Linked DNA regions of Homo sapiens. The protein of the gene in region 1 purifies or fractionates together with the protein of each later gene. This does not show direct contact. Each region holds a gene or a part of one and is shown on either strand. Other genes may lie near its edges.

Region 1 (3,500 bases):
GGGGGTTGATGCGCACGATCTCCTCGTCGTCGTCCGGGAAGCTCACCTGGCGGTAGGGCCTTGGCATCGGCTGTCCCGTAGGAGAGGAGACATTATTTTACAGCAGCGGCCAAAAAACAAACAAACAAAAAAACACCCCACCTTCTCCCTCCCTAGCCGTCCAAAATGCACCTTTCTCGATAACTCCATCACGATGCTCCGTGAAGAAACAGACCCTTCCTGAAATTACTGAATATCCTGTCGCCCAGTCAGAGATGTATTTCAAATAGAGTCTCAATCCATTAATGGGCCAGGAAATCAATTTCGTGGGTTGAGACCGGCAGTATTTTCCCTTTCTGGTGACGCACTGCCATACAGGCAGGGGAGTGTGCACATGGCAAGGGCACAGTGTGATGCGTTCTCAGGAGCATGGCACACTCAGATCAAGAGGCAGAACAGGACCTGTGCCCCAGAGTATCTTCCGCCTCCCTCAGGGATCTCCTAGCCCCAGTGTGAGGGCTACACTCACTTCTAAAGGCCTGCATTAGTTTTGCCTATTTTTGTATGGTATGTTCTCTTTTGTAAGGCTGGCTTTTTAAAAATTGAAATAGAATAAGGACACTGGAGTGCAATACATGTGAGAAGGTAAGTCCTGTTTTACGAAACTTCATTATCCATATGTGCACAATATGTCCACAAAGGATCACAATAGGAGATGCATTTCTCCCTGTGGGTGTCTCCTTCAAGAGACAGGGGACACTAGGAAACAGTAGCTCACCATGTCATCTGGTGAGATGCGGACAGGAGAAGGATAGAGTGAAGGCTCCGGAAACTGAAGTTTCACTCCTGCCAGGATCTCACAAATAGTGAGTGGCCAGACCAAGAGCCACACCCTCTAGAAACCTGCAAATCTAAGCTGCATTCTCCCTCAGGGTGGAAGAGGCTTTTCTCTGCAGTTAGTCCTGCTACAGGCTGCAACCCTGCCTTGTCCAGAGCAGCAGACACTGAATAAATATTTATTAATTACATGCATATAACCCTGGCTCACCCAGGGCCTCTCAGTGGAGGCAGAGAACTGAGACTTCTTGCTTTCGAAGTCCTTTGGGCATGAAGGTTTTTCAGGGGTTGAGGAACGTGGCTCTGGAGTGACTCACTGCAGTCAAATGCTGACATTTTCTAGCTAGTACCTAAGACTCAGGTTCCATTTCTGTCGAACTGCATAGGACTGTTTTGAGAATGAAGAGAAACAATCTACAGAGGGTGTCAGCTCACAGCCTTGCTCACAGGATGCACTTGATAACTCTCGCCATCACAGTCATTATCATATTGTTACGGACTTGATCATGCGCTTATTAGATTTACCCATCACTTCCTACCAGAGGGCAGGGCCATGTCCCACACATTTTACCTTAATTCCTGTCAAATTCTTGGTATCAGAGTTGCCTAGATTTTTGAAAATCATGATTTCAGAAGGATTTCAAAACAAATCTCGGAAACTGACACGGGCTTTACTAATTCTTTATTTTGGACAGTAAGGAAAGTAAAAAAGTTAATTTCCATCTACTGCTAGCATAATGTGATATTTATTTATTTATTTATTTTTTGAGATGGAGTCTTGCTCTGTTGCGATGACGCAATGGCGCAATCTTGGCTCACTGCAAGCTCCACCTCCTGGGTTCACGCCATTGTCCTGCTTCAGCCTCCCGAGTAGCTGGGACTACAGGCGCCCGCCACCACACCCAGCTAATTTTTTGTATTTTTAGTAGACACGGGGTTTCACCGTGTTAACCAGGATGGTCTCAATCTCCTGACCTTGTGATCCACCTGCCTCGGCCTCCCAAAGGGCTGGGATTACAGGCATGAGCCACTGCACCTGGCCAATAATGTGATTTTTAAATAGGACATTTTAATCCCAAAATATTAGGAAGCACAATCTAAAATAATTTTTTTAAAAAGAGTCAAATAAATCTAGTTTTATGTTTAAAAACAAAACAAAACAACTCACTGCCCTTTTTTCTCATTTCAAAGCAGCCTAGTGGCCACAGCACCCCACACAGGCACCAGTCCATGCCCCATGATTTGGGAACTTGCTCTGCAAAGCAGCCACTTGGTAAATATTTGTTGAACTACCGAATTCTGAGCTCCAGCTACATCCGCCTGAGCAAGACTGGGCCTGTAGCCTGTAAGGCTGGGGGCTCGAGCCAAGTGTGCAGCATTCCTTAGTCCTGATTGTGGCTCTGGGCTTCCACACAAAGCTGGGAGGCCCTTTGGACAGAGGAATGCAGGACGCAGTGTAGCCCCCTGGGTGAGAACAGGCTTGGATTTGAATCTCGTTCCATCAGATACTCCACCTCTCTAAGCCTCAGCTTCCTCATCGATAACCTGGGGAGGCTGAAGACTTGCCTTGTGGGGCAGTTTCTGAGGATTAAACCACATAAAGCATATAAAGGGTCTGGCAAGGTGTCTGGCACACAGAAAACACTGGATGAGGCTGAGGTGCCACCACCAATGCCACTTTCAATATGAAGTGGGGGTAAAGGCAGGAGCAGGAGAGGCCTGTGGTCATGGAATTTGGCTGAATAGGAGGGGAAAGAGGCCATTCCAGAATCAGAGGCACCACCCTGATGCCCTCAGAGGAACAGGGCTGCTGCTCACCTGATCGAGGTGATAGTGGTCTGTGGGGTATGAGTCGTGGAGGTGGCCCAGGGTATAAATCCTCCGGTGCTCACAGGATGTGGGAGAGGAGATTGTCCGAGTAGGTTGCTCTCTCTTCTGAGAGGAATTAGAAGAACTGTCTGTAGCTGTCTGTGTAGAGGGAGGTAACCAAGAGTCAATTTAAAAACAACAACAAAAACCCCACGCAGCAAACCCTGACATGCACTATTCAAATACTAGCTATTCCCTGGTTGTGGCAATTTGCTGCTCTTCCCAAAATCTTGAGTTTGTCTTGGCTACAACAGGAGGACCCCTGAATGGCCAGATTGTCTAAACACAATGTGGCTGGTTCAACAGGCAGAGAAGCCCAGCCACCAGACCCTGGAAAGGTAGGTTTTTCTTAAATGCGGGAATAGTGACTGGGTGCGGGGGGAAAGGCTGGATATACCAGGCTCCCCAAAGGTTTGTGTTCTAGTTTGATCAAGAATGGTTACCCTGGCCAGGCGCGGGGGCTCATGCCTGTAATCCCAGCACTTTGGGAGGCCAAGGCGGGCGGATCACCTGAGGTAAGGAGTTCAAGAGCAGCCTGGCCAATATGGCAAAACCCTGTCTCTACTAAAAATACAAAAATTAGGCAGGCATGGTGGCAGGTGCCTATAATCCCAGCTACTCGGGAGGCTGAAGCAGGAGAATTGTTTGAACCCGGGAAGCGGAGGCTGCAGTGAGCCAAGACTGAGCCACTGTACTCCAGCCTGGGTGACAGAGCAAGACTCCATCTCAAACAACAACAACAACAACAACAACAACAACAACAACAACAACAACAAAAACAAAACATAAATAAAAGAATGGTTATCCCATCTGTG
Region 2 (3,500 bases), on another chromosome or scaffold:
CAAGGCTGTCAAATTCACTTTGATTTTGGCCTCAGCTGGGCTTCATGCTTTCAGAACAATTTCTCCCACCGCCTTTCACTTGAAGTCCTTGGCAGGGATGCCTCTCCCATTCTGCACGCACAGCTCACTTAATGGGCACAAAGAAATGGGAGAAAGCTCAGGGAAAAAAGAAATAACAACCCGACCCAGTCTAAATCTTGGGAAATCGAACAGGGTCTGCATCTCTTTGAAAACTATACACAGACATTTCTGGTCGAAGTGAAACCATGCTTCTCACAGAGGGTTGGAGACAGCAAATGGAGCCTTAGTCATACACAGTTAGTTTCAAACTTATGTTGCTGCTCACAGGGAGAAATCAATGTACGGTATATTAAAAACAATCACTGCAGCCCTTAAATGATCCAATAGTTTAGCTTTGAATGCATTCAAGCTAATGGGGGCTTTAATGGCTTCTGACAGATCATTCCATTGATCAAGGGGCATGTATGAAATACGCTGCCTACTAAACTCTGTTTTGATTTTGAGAAAAGAAAACTAAACGTCCATGGTAAACATGGCTTGATTGTTCACATGTTCACCGAGATCCCTCTCAGCGTGACCCTGGTTGGGAGCAGAGGAGGGAAGGATAATGGAATCCTATATACCTGGTTTGCTTCTCTCCTGACTCTAATCAAGGCATAATCAACGGGAAACCTCTGTCTGCAGAGTTGGGGGCAGGGGGAAGGAAGGTGACCAGCGGTCCAGTTTTCTGGGTTGGATGAGTTATAAGCCACGGCTTTGGCTGTCTGAGAAACTGATTCATCTCTTGCAAGCCTTGGGGGTTTGAAGGTTAACTGTTCTGGTTCCAACGTGGAAAGCCGAATTCCCTATTTGAAAGGATAATCAGGTTTTTCAGTTGGGGACAGCAGTTTTGCAAAGAAACAAATGAAATCATGCTCCTCCATCCGTGTGTCTGGAGGCTCCAAGATTATTTTATGAAGTGCTGAACGTACCTCTACTCAAGAAAGGCAGTTTCCACAGGGTGCATGGAGTCTGAAAAACCTAAAGAGGCCTTAACATGATTCATTGAGACTATTCTTGTGCAAGAGAGGTTTCTATTTCTCCAAGCCCTGGCAGCCTGCTGTGGCTTTAAGAGTGAGCCATAGACTGTTCCTGTGTCAGACTGGTCTTGCCTGATCAGAAGTAATGAATGTATGTAGAAATTCTTCCATTACCCAGCCAAACTAAATTGGTTTCACAAAACGAATAATAATAATTTCTCTCCCTTGGACTTGAGTAGGACTTTAGCATTTACAAAGCCTTTTTCCAAATGTTATCTCCACCTGCTAGCTGCACAGTCGTGGTTTTACCTGTGTGGATGGGGATGGATCTGGCTTGTGGACCCTCTCTCCTTCTCTCGGAGGCTGGGAAGGGAAGAAGGGTGCCCTTGAAACTGGCACCACGAAGACAGTGATCACCTGTGGTCTTTGTTTAATCTTTAACACCAAGCAAGGCTGTGTGGAGGGCAAGGCGTAGTGGCTCACGCTTGTAATCTCAGCGCTTTGGGAGGCCGATGCAGGCAGATCACTTGAGCCTCGGAGTTTGAAACCAGCCTGTGTAATGTGGTGAAATCCTGTCTCTACAAAAAAATTAGCCGGATGTGGTGGCAAGTGCCTATGATCCCGACTACTTAGGAGGCTGAGGCAGGAGAATCGCTTGAGCCCATGAAGTCGAGGCTGCAGTGAGCCGTGATCTCACCACTGCACTCCAGCCTACGTGACAGGGTGAGACCCTGTCTGAAAAAAAAAAAGAAAAAAAAAAAAGACTGTGTGAAAGAGCTTCATGCCATTATCACTAATGAAGAGGGTCAGAATTACCCGAAGCACACAGGATCTGGAACCATTGAACTTCTCCTAAACTTCCTGTAGAACGGTCTTGACCCTTTTGGCCCCACCTGTAGGGCACCTTGCTGTCCTAGGCCAGCACTTCCCATCTCTCAGCAGGAAACTACCGCATTTACCAGATCAGAAACAAAGGGAATCTCCGCCTGCTAGAAGTGCTTCATTTGTATTGGTGCCATGTTTAGTCAGTGGCTTTTGTAAAATTGATGAATTTTGTCTAAAGGCAAGTGCAGACAGGCAAACAGATCTGTATCTGCTGTTATCCATTTAGCTTGACACACATGTGCAGAGGAACTATTTTACCTCAATTCTTTCAGGATTGATGAAAAGTAAATGCGAGCAAAGTCATGAACTGCATCATTGGAAAAGAATCACTGAATCTAATGCTGGAGGTTAATTAATGCTTCCCTCCCCTTGAAATAGACTGACCCTGGTACTTAGACATTCAGAGTCAATAAACAATTGTTGTACACAGATCATCCATTAGAAGGTGATGGCAAGAATTTTTTTAAGCAAATCCAAAATTGCAATGGGTGACCTACTCCCACTGTAGAAATGAGAGTCCTAAAACATCATTTTTCATAATATCTCATTTATAAAAAGTTCCATGCCATCCGCCTAGCGAAAAATGGAAGCTGTGAAGAGCAAATGGGATAATATATGGGATAGTGACACAATATTCTTCTTGAACAAGCCACAGCTATCTTTAGTCCCTTTAATATTTTGGTCAGGATATCACGGATCATATTTTTCATCATAATAATGTACATGCGTGGCGTGATTTTTAAGTACCAGACATGATATGAATCACTTAACATGGCTGATCGTAGGGGACAGAACAATCCAATGAGCTAGGCATTATCATCATCCCCATTATAGAAACAAAGACTGGAGCGCAGAGGGGTTAAGTGATTTGGCCCAGTCACAAAGCTACAACTGTTACCACAGGAAACTTGGTTAATAATAATAGCTAGTACCTCACTGAAGCCCAGTATATGTCAGGTACTGTGGGAGGCATTTTAAATACGCATTAACTTATTGAACCTTCACAACAACCTTAGGTGATGGATTACTACTATTCTATTTTGTAGATAAGACAACAAAGGTTTGAAGAGGTGGTAGAGTGAGAATCACACACAGAATCAGAACTTAAACTCAGAAAACCTCTTCTGCCACTCAGGAATCCAAAGATTTGGAAAATCTGATGAATGACAGCGGGATAGAAAGAGCAGAGGATGCAGAGAGGCTCAGTTTCCAATGTAGGAGGAGGATTTGGGCCAGAGAGCAGGAAGAACTTGGCTGACAAGGTTCTGAGAGGTGGGAATTAGGACTGTCCTGGGAGCATGGGGCCGATGGGACACAGGACTATGGGAGCAGGGCTGCCTGGGAACCGGGGTGGAAAGCTGTCTGGTCCTTCTAGCCGGGATCTGGGGGGCACTTGTGGTTCTCCTTGTTAATAAGAGAGAATGGAGAACCAGATCTTCAGATACTTTCCTGGAGTTTCCAGGAATCTATCGGGTGTCTCAGGTGAGCGAGAGAACCAGGTGAATGCCTTCTGACAACCCCCAAAACCTGCCTCCCAAACACAGCAGTGGCCCAGGGGTGCCCTTGCTGTCTTGC
Region 3 (3,396 bases), on another chromosome or scaffold:
GAAGTGAGTAGTCAGTCTTGGTTCAAACTACCACAGATTCTCATCTTCCTTACTGAATTTTTGTAAATGTTCTTGAATAGATGTTTCTTCATTGCCATTTGTCCTCAGGACCATTTCCAGAAGTTTTAAATGGTTGTTTTTAATATTTTTCACCAGTTTCACAGTATGAAAATTAAACATTCAATTTTTTTACTAAAATGTATTATTTGAAAATTCTATACTAAAAATACAATGGAATTAACCCCATCAATTTCATAATGACTATAAAGTAATCAAGTCACAGAGCCAAAGTATAGACAGTTTAGAAGACTGAACTTTCCTTAGCACTAATATTTAACAATAGGAGCCAATTTCACTTAAAATAATCTGAATGTTATATATGCAACAAATTTTAGTCTCTGTAAAGAATCTTATACCAAAAACCCTATAAAAATGTTAAGTAAATTGAGCCTATTTTTACCATAGGCCTGGCCAAATGTACACATGAAAACTGATGAACGTAATGTGCAAAAAGGCTTGGAGAGAGTTTTATTTCAGTTACTTCAAAATACAAGTAGGCTATTATTTTCCTTTGGAAGAAGAAACCAGAAAAAAAACTTCCTGATTGTAACATTGTGACAAATTTCAGATTATATAACACATAACACAGGATAAATGGCTGTAGCATTAATTTTTTTCTCCAGTTACATTCCTTTATACTAAAAGACTAGTATTAAATCTTAGAAGAAAATTTCAATTGTTCTTACGTGTTACATATTAAACACAAAAGCAATTTATTATTATTTGGTACAACATGAACCTCAGTATTTGCTCAAATGTAGAAAAGGATTCCTTAATATGCTGAGAAATATCCTTAGATAAATCCAACTGTGAAAATATAGAAAAACTCCTTACTGTAATTACTGGGAACCACAAAGTTAATTTTTACAGGGTAGAAAAACTCCACAAAAATGGAGATTCATACTTAAAAACCTTCTTTTACTGATAGAACATTCTTTCTGGTATTATAAAATGAACAAAAGTGTACAGATATGGGCTTGGGGCTAGATAATATCCATAGAACTCGCCATTTTAAGCAATAAAAATTGGCATGTGGGTGCATGCCTGTAATCCCTGCTACTTAGGAGGCCAAGGCAGGAAGACTGCTTGAACCCAGGAGTTCAAGACTAGCCTGGGCAATGTAGTGAGGCCACTGTCGCTCAAGGGAAAAAAAGACATGTTTTTAAACACACTTCTAATAAAAAGAATTTTTAAAACCAACTTTTTTGCTTCTAGATAGTCTCAATGCCTTGGATTTAAAACATGACTCCTTCTTGATACAATGAATTATAAAAGCAAACTAGTTCCACATATTAATTATACGTTCAAGTCTAGTTCCTAAAAAGTCATTTCTCTTTAACCTTTCTTACCTATCAATCAATCATTTTCATATAATCTAATGTCTAAGGACTCCAAATATTGGTACGGGGTGAGTATCCCTAATCTAAAAGTCAGAAACAAGAAATGTTCCAAAATTCAAAACATTTGAGCGCAGATATGACACATAAGGGAAATGCTCATTGAAGCATTTCCAATTTCTAATGAAAGATTTTTGGATTAGGGATGCTAAATTGGTAAATATAATGCAAATATTCCAAAATAATAATTTAAAAACCCCACAAAAAACCAAAATCCAAAACACTTCAGGTCCCAACCATTTTGAATAAGGGATACTCAACCTGTAGTACCATGGGAGCCAATCTTCCCCACAGCTAATTCTGTAATTACCATTTTGTTTCTTCTGTAACAACAAACAGTTTAAATAATTTCCAATTATAAAGATAGATAGGTTAACATCATCATCGTTTTTTAACAAGATAACTTTTATGAAGCTTCCAATTTTAAAAAAGAAAAACACTTATCTATTCAGTAGGGAAGAAACAATCTTATTTATTAATGGCCTGCATATTTAGAAAGGGTTTAAAAACACATACATTTCCTGGGACACAAACTTACTTACCAAATGTATGTCCTTACAAAATAACTTCACAGATCAATAGTCTTGAACTTACACAAAGACATATATATGACATACATTAGGTTAATATACATTTCAAATGTTTTTGCAGCAACTTTCTACCAGAAAGTACACTAATGTGAGAATGTATGTTCTCTTTAACCCCTTAAAAATAGTAATAAAAAATTACAAAATAATGTAAATGTAAAATTAAGGCTGAGACTACATATTCTAGTATTAATAAAGTCAAACAAACAATAGTTATAAAACTTGGTGCTGCTGAATATTTTATATATATATATTTATATATATATATATATATACACACACACACACACACAGGATAAGTCTTTTGAAATTTGAAATGCTACCACTGTCACAAGTTCACTCATTGATTTAATGTTGTTCTGGGTATCTTAACATTTCAATTCCCAAATACCTGTGCTTTTAAAATTTTTATCCTGAATTCTGCATTGAGTTTCCTCACATATTTACAATTAAACATCTAGCCTCTAGAACCTCCCTTACACAAAAGACAAAACATCTTTGTTAAATAAATTCACGCAAAAGTAATAAAAAGGTTTTCAAGAAATAGTTCTGACATGTTCATTATATTTATACTGAAAAATAGTACATGTACTTTTCTTCAGGATTAATAAATGCCATGTGCCAGTTTTACAGTCACTGCCACATTAGCACATTTTCCTCTTACACATTTGCAAGGTAGTGACAACCAAAGGGCATAATGTCTGGAATAATTCCAGTAAATCCATAATGTCCAGTAAGATTCATAAAATTGAATGGTTGTTTCCAGTCCCATCTGAATCGAAATGGAAATTCATGCCCAGGTACTTGTATTGTCCCCAGAAATACTCAGTCTGGTAAGTCACCCTCTTGGTCTTCTGAAACAGAGATGCAGAAAGCAGGGCATTCTTACTGAGACCAATGGCCTCTTCTCTCTGTCACCTCTCATACATCTGTTTTGGTTATAATCCTGGTCAAAGGGGAAAGAAAAAAAAGTTTTATGTACCAAAGGTTTCCTTTCCCTGAATTCCCTCATCACACCTGAATGCTTAAATATCCAATGAAACCATATTCTTTTAAATATAATTCTTGGTATAAACAGATTTAATTAAATCCTTATATATAATCATTTCCTTCACATGTATGCAAAACAAGCCCCCAAATAAAAGTAGTTAACACACACACAGTATATAACATATATAAGTAATTTGTATCACAGTGCTTTGAAATGGTATTATCTCAGACCTAAATTCTGCAGATTTTTCCTTTCACCCCCTTTTCCTTAAATGAACTTATTATTTTAAGAACAGGAATTATAATGCTTATTACAGAAAAGTAACAAAGACAAGCAAAATAAAACATTTAATATTCATAAT
Region 4 (2,448 bases), on another chromosome or scaffold:
AGTTTGGTTTGTAAGTTCTGATCCACTGCAGTCCTTCCTGCATCAGATACCACAGAAAGGCTGGGCCCATTGCCCCCTCCTGGTCTTGGGACTGAGGACTCTTCCTGCCCAGATTCAGAGTCCGAAGGCCAGGAGGCTGGAAAAGAAACGACTGTCCTCCCGTGGGACAAACTGCCACCTTGGCCGTCGTGTCCTCGTTTGGGGAGCCTCAGATCCGAATGACATAGGCGTCGCTGTGGCTTAGGTGTCGCACCCACTTGTGGGGGTTGGCATTGCCGCATGGCCTGAAGGCCAGCCTGAGGAATCGGACCTGGAGGCCAGAGCACGTGTGCCGGGGAAGCTCGAAGGAGAGACTGGCAGGGCCCAGCCCCAGAGGAGAGGCCGAGGTGGAGAGCCCATGGCTGGGAGGTCCTGGGGGCCCTGGGACGTCCATCTGTGAGGGGCAGAGGCAGGGAGAGGAAGGAGGGCAAGAAGCTGACCACGCTGGGGGAACCAGGCAGCAGCTGCTTCGGGAGGGTGGGGTGGGGGCTGCAAGTGAATGTGGGAGGAGAGGGGCTGGGGGTCCACAGCGAATACCTGGAAAAGGCCTGAGAGTTGAGAGCCTCCTTGCACCCGAGGCAGGTCCCAGCGAAGGGCTCCCTCTGCCAGCTCAGCCTTCTGCTCTGGGCTGCTCAGCTCCTGAGACAGGCTGGAGTTTGGAAAGGGAAGGTGCTGGGCTTGGCACCTTCTTGAGGCAGACCCGTCATGCTGAGCTCACTCTCTCCCCAGGAATCTCCCCGTGGTGGGTGCACACACTCACCTGACCACCCCTCGAGGCAGGGGGAGGTGCAGCCTGACATTGAGGGCTTGGCTACAGAGGAGACGGGAACAAAGTCAGCCCCAGGAAGGCACAGTCCCTTGTCCTGTTCCTCTTCAATGTCATAACAGGATTTCAGCACAGGTGCCCCCCACCTTCCCAAATTCTACAGCCTCTACCTTAACTGGCTTCTGAGGCTGGCAGCTGCATCTGAAGGGAGAAGCAGCAGGTGCCCTGGCCCTGTCTTCCGTCCCATAGAGCTGAACTCAGCCAGGCCAGCCTCACTCTTACCTCTTTGAGAGCAGGTCACATCGCAACTTTAGATAAACCTGGAGCCTGGATGAGAGGGTAAAACACCACGACTCAGGCCATCTTCTACTGGCATCTCACCATTCCCCACCAGGGACCTCCATGTGGGGCTGTGTGGGTGTGGGCTGTACTCCCAAGAGGGAAAAGGGCTGAAGCCCAGCCCAACTCCATTAGCCAAAGCTTTTTCCTTTTTTTTTTTTTCAGAGAGATGGGGTCTCACTATGTTGCCCAGGCTGGTCTGGAACTCCTGGGCTCAAGTGATCCTCCCGCCTCAGCCTCCCAAAGTGCTAGGATTACAGGTGTGAGCCACCGGCCGCAACCCAAGCCTTTTTCCAATTTGCACTCCATCACCACTACCACCACCCCCACTCTGCAGTGAGTCTTGGGAACATACAGGTCTTGGCTTGGGTTCCAAGGTAGTTCTAGAACCCAGGAAATTGTCTCACCGGCCTGAGCCTCGGTCCCACTGCACAGAGGGGAAGAGCCGGAAGGGGAGCGGTGAGGGGAGGTCATCGGAGAGTTGGTACCGCATCACAGTCAGCTGAGAGACCAGAGAGCAACAAGGTTAGTTTGGTCTCACGACCCCACTGCCCCCTTCCCCATGGTGGACGGAATTTATGAGGCCACCCCAACCCTGACCTCGCCCTGAGGTGGTTGCAAGCGGAGGATTCGATGAGACTCAAATTCGTCCAGATTCACAGAGCTGTGAAACGAGACTTCATCGACCCGGATTCCTGGCCCATAACCTGGAAAGAGAGAGAGAGAGACTTCTCTCCTGACTCCTGTTTTGGGAGAGGAGCAAGGAGAGGGGAGGCTCTGTCTGACTTCTCTCCATGAACTCTGGCAATGACCTACTCCAAGGGGAGAAAGACCCACTTTCTCCTCACCTCTCAGCTCTGACTTCCCCACACAAAACTCTTCCGTCAAGCCAATGCGCATCTCTGTCGGAGGAGAGACCATCAGGAGAGCTCAGCAATGCCATGGTTTAAGACACCAAGGAACCCGCCCTAACCCCAACCCTTGGTCCTGCCTGCAGATGCCTCACCAGAGCCGCTAGGAAGGAAGCTCTTGAGCCGAATCTCTCCCTGCACATCCACCTTCAGCAGGGATCCCTGAGAGGCAGGGGCGTCAAGGTTAGAGTCTTTTTTTCTTTCTTTTTTTGAGACGGTCTCGCTCTGTCGCCCAGGCTGGCAGTGGCGTGATCTCGGCTCACTGCAACCTCCACCTCCCAGGTTCAAGACATTCTCCTGCCTCAGCCTCACAAGTAGCTAGGGTTACAGATGCCTGCCACCATAAGTAGCTAATTTTTGTATTTTTAGTAGAGATGGAGTTTCACTGTGTTG

Evidence for each region.
Region 2: the proteins of SPRED2 (region 1) and FTO purify together in Homo sapiens (affinity purification with mass spectrometry; one large-scale study listed by BioGRID and IntAct). This does not show direct contact.
Region 3: the proteins of SPRED2 (region 1) and SMCHD1 purify together in Homo sapiens (affinity purification with mass spectrometry; one large-scale study listed by BioGRID and IntAct). This does not show direct contact.
Region 4: the proteins of SPRED2 (region 1) and AP4M1 purify together in Homo sapiens (affinity purification with mass spectrometry; one large-scale study listed by BioGRID and IntAct). This does not show direct contact.

The regions. Positions count from the first base shown.
Region 1 is NC_000002.12:65,314,100-65,317,599, forward strand, and holds part of SPRED2 (sprouty-related, EVH1 domain-containing protein 2), read right to left. Parts: intron 2,785-3,500; coding exon 2,635-2,784; intron 71-2,634; coding exon 1-70. UniProt on the Homo sapiens protein: Negatively regulates Ras signaling pathways and downstream activation of MAP kinases. Recruits and translocates NF1 to the cell membrane, thereby enabling NF1-dependent hydrolysis of active GTP-bound Ras to inactive GDP-bound Ras.
Region 2 is NC_000016.10:54,116,656-54,120,155, reverse strand, and holds part of FTO (alpha-ketoglutarate-dependent dioxygenase FTO), read right to left. Parts: 3' UTR 1-3,500.
Region 3 is NC_000018.10:2,802,122-2,805,517, reverse strand, and holds the end of SMCHD1 (structural maintenance of chromosomes flexible hinge domain-containing protein 1), read right to left. Parts: intron 2,991-3,396; coding exon 2,966-2,990; coding exon of another isoform or gene 2,883-2,965; 3' UTR 501-2,882; downstream 1-500. UniProt on the Homo sapiens protein: Non-canonical member of the structural maintenance of chromosomes (SMC) protein family that plays a key role in epigenetic silencing by regulating chromatin architecture.
Region 4 is NC_000007.14:100,104,643-100,107,090, reverse strand, and holds part of AP4M1 (AP-4 complex subunit mu-1), read right to left. Parts: intron 2,218-2,448; coding exon 2,151-2,217; intron 2,047-2,150; coding exon 1,993-2,046; intron 1,852-1,992; coding exon 1,745-1,851; intron 1,647-1,744; coding exon 1,552-1,646; intron 1,133-1,551; coding exon 1,088-1,132; exon of another isoform or gene 976-1,087; intron 851-975; coding exon 800-850; intron 689-799; coding exon 577-688; intron 434-576; coding exon 209-433; 3' UTR 1-208. UniProt on the Homo sapiens protein: Component of the adaptor protein complex 4 (AP-4). Adaptor protein complexes are vesicle coat components involved both in vesicle formation and cargo selection. They control the vesicular transport of proteins in different trafficking pathways.